Homo sapiens: one gene and its partner. The protein of the gene in region 1 interacts with the protein of each later gene in a pairwise test. Each region holds a gene or a part of one and is shown in the gene's direction. Other genes may lie near its edges.

Region 1 (3,747 bases):
TTTTGTCCTCACACTTGCATTCCGGTAAGGCAGATGTTCATGTCTTCTCTTTTCAGGAAGGCAGCTGAGGATCCCAGCTATCTAAGCTTTTGGGCAACTGAGATTTAATTTGAAATCTCAGGTCTTCTGTCTCTGAAGAGGTTGTTCTTTCTTATTTTGGCTTCCTAAAATGTTGGAATGAAATACTTCTCACTTGCTAACTTCAGACCCTGCAGAAATCAATATAATTAGTATGATTGTTTCCAACTGACTTAAATGTGTAGGAAATAGTATATATCCTTTAGGAAGTTTATCCTGATTTTTACAGAAAGTTTCTGTCTGCACTTGCCTTCTTTGAAGAAGCAAACATTCACGGTAGATTTATCTTCCAGGATTTTGATGCTGAGGCCAAGAGGCAGTTTTGAATTAAAGCCCTCCTGTGACTAGTGTATTAGTTTAATAATCAATGCATTATGATAATGAAGCAGTTTATAGATGAGGTGTAGTCGTTCTTTAAAAATTCAGTGTTCGTAAAGATTGATCAACTTCCTAACTGAATTACTCTTTTTCTTTCTTGAGCTAGGATGACAATAAGAGATATACTCCTGTCTGGTATACATTGGCTTTTATATTTTTCCAGACTTGTGTTTCATCGTGGGCACTGATTGCTGATTTTATTTTCATTTTACCAGAATAACTGGTTCTCCTCCTCCACCTCCTAAATGAATTTGTTTCCCGAATATTTATTTATTTATTTTTTTGAGACGAAGTTGCCCAGGCTCTGTTGCCCAGGCTAGAGTGCAGTGACACAATCTAGGCTCACCGTAACCTCTGCCTTCTGGGTTTGCGCGATTCTCCCGCCTCAGCCTCCCGAGTAGCTGGGACTGCAGGTGTGCGCCACCATGCCTGGTTAATTTTTGTATTTTTAGTAGAGACGGGGTTTCACTGTGTTGGCCAGGCTGGTCTCGAACTCCTGACCTCGTGATCTGCCTGCCTCAGCCTCCCAAAGTGCTGGGATTACAGGTGTGAGCCACCGTGCCTGGCCTCTGAATTTGTTTCTCTAACAAAATTAGTGGTTAATGTTTATTTGATGTTAAAAGTCAGTCAAAGAAAATAGGCTTTGGGATCCCACTCCGGACCCCGCCTTGGTGCCTGTAGGGTGAATTGACATTGCAATTCTTGCCAAGGAGAGGTTAATTGCAGATGAAAGTGGTGTTGCATGTTTTATATTTGCTAGTAGGGGATGTGCTGACTCTTACTAAAAAACATCTTTAGAAATGTCTTATGCATTATAATTTAATCCAAGTCTCTGATATTGGTTTGGATGGTTTTCAATACAAGCCAAGTAACCATTAAATAAGATTACATAACACTGTATTTTTAATTATCTGATATAATGTATGGATTGGTGGCTGGCTCACTGCCAAGTTACATTTAGTTGTCGTTGATTACAAGAGAAAGTGGAGCTGAGGATTCAAGATTAAGGTGGTCCAGATTTGTGTCTAGGTTGATAAAAGTTTTTTGTTTGTATATCAAAATGGTTTTTATATCAGTTTCTCAAATATTACAATTCTTAGCATTACTTAGAATAAATATGGAGGATAAAAATATATTAAGGAAGGATTATTATTTTATGTACATCTCTTTGTAATCCACAAAACCCAGGGGCTTAAAACTTGATTTTTGGGGACCCCTTTTGGAAAACATTTCGGATTTGCTTGAATGTCACAGACTTGTAAAGTAGAGAGTAAGAATGAGAACTGCAGAACTGTATTTAGGTATGGTGCCTTCATGCTATAGTTTGTGATTTTCTGTTTCATCCAAAGGAGGATGTGATTATTTAGTTTTTAGTTTTTTATTGTTTTTCTTTGTGTTATCAGTTTTTTTTTTTTTTTAAGAAAATGCGATCACTCACAGTGTTAGATATGCCATTTCTGAGTTTTATACAGTGTATTATGATTAAAAGTGACCCAGTGATTGTGAGTTACAGGGTTTTGGTATTGGACATTAGTAACAGGCTTATAGAGAACCTGCCATGCTGGTTCTCTGTGTTGGGTCCCAGGGGTAGGGAGGAAAAACAGTCTGCACTGGTGAGAAGCTCCTGCTCTCCTCTGTGTGCGTTTGAGAATGAATTTTCGGTTTGTAGATGCCCTCTTTCCTAAGGAACATCTTAGTCCTTCAACTATGCTGAAATATTTAATGATTGGATGGCTTAGATTTACTGTTAATAAATCAGCTTGTGGACATTTTTGAGGCACTTGTTGGTACTGGGTCATGTTTGTAATCTCGATACTGGTAACAGCTCAGAGATGGAGAGGTTATTAGCCTAGTTTTTCAGTTGTAGAAACCAAGATTCTGACAGCTAAAGTGACTTGCCCATGGTGACATGCTTATAATAAAATGTCAGAGTGAAGGGTCAAGCTTTGTTCTTTTACAGGTCCATTGTTCTTTTTACCATGTCCTACTGACTCTCAGTAACACTGAGAGTCTAAAGGGCTAAGTTACTGGCCAACCTGTGATGGTATAATTAGTGAATGATAGAAGGAGAATCAAAACCCTGGCTTTTTTATGTGCAGTTTGTTTTTCCTCTAGCCTGTGCTGAATTGAAAGATAAATTATATAGCATCCATTTTCATACTTCATTCTTCACATTTCTGCCCTAAGATAAGTCCTCTGACCTTTTTCAAAATGGGTTGGATTGCCTGTTTTCTGGTGTCACATAACACCTGGTGCTCTTACGGTGTGATCCTCATCACACTGCTTTGTTTGGATCTTTGTCTTTCTTGGTAAAGAGTGAGTTCCTCGGAAGACAGGGCCTGGTCTTTCCTCTGTATCTTCAGCACCTAGCATACGTCTGAGCACAGGGCCCTTGGGAACTCCTGTCTTCATTTCAGTGTTACGTGTTAATTATCATTAAGGGTAGCAGAATCAGAAAGTATATTTGGAATTTAGCAGTCAGTAAAGAGCTTTGCTTCTTACAGCTTTAGAGGACCTGAATTGGAGGTGGGGATGAAGTCAACAGTTCTGCCCATATCAATGAAAGAAGGTTCTGAGTGAAATGCAGGGTTGAACAAGCAGAAAAGCATCCCAGTGCTCTTTAAATGTGGTTGCACAGTAGGGATCCTTCTCTAGGAGATAATGAGAAGATGTTGTCAGATCTGCTTTGAATCAGATGTTTATTTACTTTTATTCTTTCTTAAGGAATTTATGAAATCACTGCACTCTCATCAATTTGCTCTCCTTCTCTAAACTCCTAATGATATTTCTCATGACAGATTAAAAACAGAATTTTGGAAGCCCTAGTCACATGCCAAATAAGGTTTCTTACCTGAGAGAGTTATCCGCAGTTTCAGATGCCAAAGGGAAACTCCGAAAGCCAGAGGAGCGATTGAAACCGCAAATTGAGTGCCAACAGCAACTTTGATATCAAAAGCCCCATTTGCCTGTTGTCACCAGTCCCGCTGAGTGAAGATAGAATGACTTATATCTTCTACCAAAACAATAGAAGGAGAGTGTTCCTTGGCGTTGGGGATGATGATTATAAAAGCCACCAATTTGAGGCTCTTCCGTGCCAGCTGCTTTCTGTGCATTCTCTCCCATCCCCGCAAGATCTTGCAAGGTAGGAGGTTTTATTCCCTGCGTGCCTCCTTTATTTTTTTCAAATGAGGCCTCTAAGGCTCAAAAACACTAAGTAACTTGCCCAGTCAAGGTACACAGCTTATAAGTAGTCAGGCTGAAATTTTAAACCAAGTCTGCAGTATTTTGTTA
Region 2 (3,747 bases), on another chromosome or scaffold:
CTACTTTTACAGCTTTGGGGTTTTGCTTTCCCCAAGGGTGGGAGGTGGGAGAAGTGGCAGTGGGAGAACCTGGACCTTCGAGACATTTCCGTGCCACAGTTTTAGCTTTTAGCTTCCATTCACACACTTTCCCTGCTGAGGGGGCCCCTCCTTTAAGTGTGTCCCCCCAAACAGCTAAGACAGTCTGGGCCCCCTGGACAGCTCTGGAGGCAGATGGGGAACTGCTTCTGGGGGAGGTTGTTTCCCAGCCATATTGGCTAGCAGCCCTGATTGTCTTAAAAGGCTGCCTGGGTGAGCGCTGGAGTCCCAAGGTCTAGGAAAGGCTGGGCGCTGTGTGTGGTGCAGGAGGAGCCCCTCCGAAGCCCCTGGGCCACACTCCAAGGCTGGGTTTTCCTTGCTTGCCTGGGCAGCCTCAGCACTCTGGGTGCCTCTCTCTGCCCAAGGCGTTCCTGGGGCCCAGCCCCTCCCTGGGCTGCTCCAGCGCTCTGGTGACTTGACACTACCCTTTCTGCCGCTGCTCCTTTTACCTCCTAAAGCTCCCCTCCCCCGCCTGAATTGGGAATGAGGCTTTGTTCAGGGGTGAACTCAGCATTTCTCGAGAACCTACTGTGTGCATATCCCGGGCTTAGTGAAGTCCTAGGCGGGCTCTGGCACCACCAGGTGCCCAAGACACAGCTCCTTCCCGCACCTAACAGGGACTTCCCATCTCTCTCTGTGCCCTTAGCCTGCTGTGCCCACCCACCCCACTGACCCCGCGAGCGTGCTCGGGCTTGGGAGGGCACGTCTGTGGGGGTGAGAGACGGAGCCACAGCATTTGGTGACTAGGGGGAAGCCAGGTAAGTGTCTACACTTGGTTCTCCCGTAGCTTGGGGACGCGAGGGAGGGAGTCCAGCCGCTCCTGTCAGGCTGCCCGCCCCTTTCTCCCTCCCCCGGAGAGCTCTGATGTTCCCCGCGGTGGTGGAAGAGGGTGTGTGGGTGTCAAGGACTCACAGACCAGGCTCTGCTGTCAGCTGGAAATGGATGAGGGCTCCACACTCTGCTTCTGAAGAGGGTGAATTAGGAGCTGGGGTTGGGGGCGGTAGGTGAAGGGCAGAAAGAGGAAAAAGAGATGCGGGTGAGGGGTTACCGAGCCAGGACCGACCTTGCTGGAAAGGAAAGGAGACGTGGCAGGCAGGGAAGTCGGAAAGATGAGGCAAGGGCGGGAGGGGCTTCTCAGCAGTCGGGGCCCTTTTGCAGGAGTCTGGGGCCCTTTCTGCAGGAAAGGGGGGTTGTTCTCGCTTGATTTTCGGCTGGTCTTCCTGAAGCTTTGCCCTGGGGGCAGCAGCCTCCGGCGAGGATGGGGTGTTCCTCGGCCCGCAGTTTTCTCCAGCGCGTGCTGGGGAGGATTTGGGGGAAAGGGGATGCGGAGGGGTGATGGCCAGGGCGGGGGGAGATAAGATTTTTCCGGGGGGGCTAGCAGCTGGGAGATTGGGGTCGAGTCACCGTGGGATACGGGCTCAGGTTCTGAAGACGAAGAGAAAAATCCAAGAAGCCGGCAAAGAAAATCACCCCTTGCCACCACCCTTGGCACGGCACCCCTCCCCCAAGGCCCCACCACTCCCCGCACCGCCTCCCCCGGCCGCCTCGTGCTGCCCCCTGCGTTGGGACGACCGACCCACGGTTCTGATTGGTCAGAGACCGGGAGGGGGAGCCGAGGGCCGGATTGGCTGGCGGAGCCAGCGCAGGGCGGGGCGGCTGATTGGCGGAGCTGGCCGAGGGGCGCGCTGCTGATTGGCTGGGGACGAGGAAGCAGGAAGGAGGGCGGCGGAGGCTCCGCTCTCGGGGAGTTTGTGGGGGAACCGCGAGCGGCGTAGCGGATCCCGGAGCCCGGCCCCCGCCGCCCGCCCGTCCGGCTGCCTGCCCCGCCCGTCCGGCCCCCGCCGTCCGCCCGCCCCGGCCAGGCGCGCCCGCCCCCCCCGACGGCCCCGCCCGGCCGCGGTCCCCGCTCCGCCCGCCCGGCCCCGGCCCCCAGGAGGAGGCGCTGACGCAGCAGCGTGGAGCCCGGGAATTGAGCGCCCCCGGGGGGTTCCAGCCGCCGGATTCCAGCCCGGCCGGGGCCTGCGGGCGCCCAGAGCCGCGCCGTCCGCGCCGCCCGTTCTGGTGAGTCAGGGGCCGGGGTCGAGGAGGGGGAAGGGGCGAGCTGGAGGGAGGGAGCGAGCGAGGTAGGCAGAAGAGCGAAGGGGGAGAGCACCGGCCGCCCGTCAGCGCGCCCCACCGAGCGCGCCGCGCCACCGCCCCCGCCAGCCCGGGAAGGGACGGACGGACGGACGACGCGAAGCAGGTGCGGCCGCCCGCCCGCTCGCGCCACCTCCCTCCCCTGGGTCCGGCACCACGGTCCCGCCATCGGGGAACGCGGCGCGCCTCGAGGTGACAGCCCCCGGGGGCCGCCCGCCTTGCAGGCCGGGGGCGGGGTGGGTGGCGGCCGCAGGGTGGCAGCTCGGCCGGGCGGCGGCGGCGCGGGCGTCCCGAGCTGCGGAGGGCGGGAGGACGCCGGTCTTTCCTCGCCGCGGCGGAGCCGGCTCGCCTCCGAGTGCGCGGGCGGCGAGGCCCCCGCCGCGCCCCCTCCCCCATCGCGGTCCCCGAGGCAAGGGGCCGCGGCCGGGGGCGGCGCCGCGGGATCGCCCGCTCAGGGTGGGGGGCGCCCTCCCGCGCTGGGAGCTGACCGGTTATTGCTGGATGGGGGGCAGGGGATGAGGGCCGCGCCGGGCCGGGGGCGGCAGGGGGGAGTAGTGTAGACCCGACTCGATCGGGCTGAGAGGAAGGGAGGCGCCGAAGACGGAAGGGGACCGGTTCGAAAAGCGAGTGTGGGCCGCGGGAGGCCCTGCGGGGACCTTGCGGGGCGGCGGCCGAGTCCGAGGTGTGGCGGGGGGAATCGAAGTTGTCAGACCGCCTCCAAGTGACAGCGGGACCCTGTGCTCGCGGCCCGGCCTGGTCTTGCCCTGCTCGCTCCGCCGCCTCTCTTCTGGGGCTGGGGGCCGGGTCAGGTCGGGCCCGAGGGGCTCGCTTGGCGGTGAAGCGCCGGACAAAGGCGGCGCCGGAGCGGGCGCAGGTGGTGGCGTCGGGGAGGGGAGCGGGTCCGAGGCACCCACTCCGAGGGGCGGGCGACGGGGCCGGACTCTGCCCCGGGGACTGCGGGGGCCGGGGCGCCCGCCGGGAGGAGCTGCGGCACTGGCTTGCCGCTCTAGCCGCTCGCTGTTGGCCTCGAGGCTCTGGGAAGTGGGGTCTACTTGCCGGGGGCCGAGGGGCCGGGGTGGGGGTGTATGCTCATGATGTGCCTTGGCTGGTGGCGACGGGGTTGCTACTCACCGAGGCGACAGACCCAGTGAGCCGCTGTAGAGCCTGTCAAGAATGAGGGGTTTTTCAACAAGCAGAGTCTGCCTACAGGCAGAAGTCTAACCCCACCTGGGACATCTCCTAGTCGCCCATTGTCGACAGTGTTAGAAGTGCAGAAGACTAGTTTGATTAGGACAAGAGACACCCCACCCCGTGGGCTCCCGCCAGCCCTCCGCAGCTGCCTCCAGCACTTTTCCTTAGCCACAAAGGTACCCACTTAGAAAAATGAGAAGCTGAGTTTATAAATCCAGGCAGGAATTTAATAATGAAATAAAAAGCTTTCCAGTCCTTTTACTTTGTGCCACCTGAGACTTTCCTCCCTACTCTCTTCACCTCGCTGTCTTCCACAAAAAAAAAGAAAAAGGGCCCAGAGGG

Evidence for each region. Proteins that work in one complex are often made in the same cells at the same time.
Region 2: the proteins of KHDRBS3 (region 1) and BAHD1 interact in binary tests that used the Homo sapiens proteins (3 or more experiments, as listed by UniProt).

Annotation. Positions count from the first base shown.
Region 1 is NC_000008.11:135,460,379-135,464,125, forward strand, and holds part of KHDRBS3 (KH domain-containing, RNA-binding, signal transduction-associated protein 3), read left to right. Parts: intron 1-3,254; exon of another isoform or gene 3,255-3,510; coding exon of another isoform or gene 3,511-3,598; intron 3,599-3,747. UniProt on the Homo sapiens protein: RNA-binding protein that plays a role in the regulation of alternative splicing and influences mRNA splice site selection and exon inclusion. Binds preferentially to the 5'-[AU]UAAA-3' motif in vitro.
Region 2 is NC_000015.10:40,439,130-40,442,876, forward strand, and holds the start of BAHD1 (bromo adjacent homology domain-containing 1 protein), read left to right. Parts: upstream 1-1,823; 5' UTR 1,824-2,139; intron 2,140-2,280; exon of another isoform or gene 2,281-2,406; intron 2,407-3,310; exon of another isoform or gene 3,311-3,747.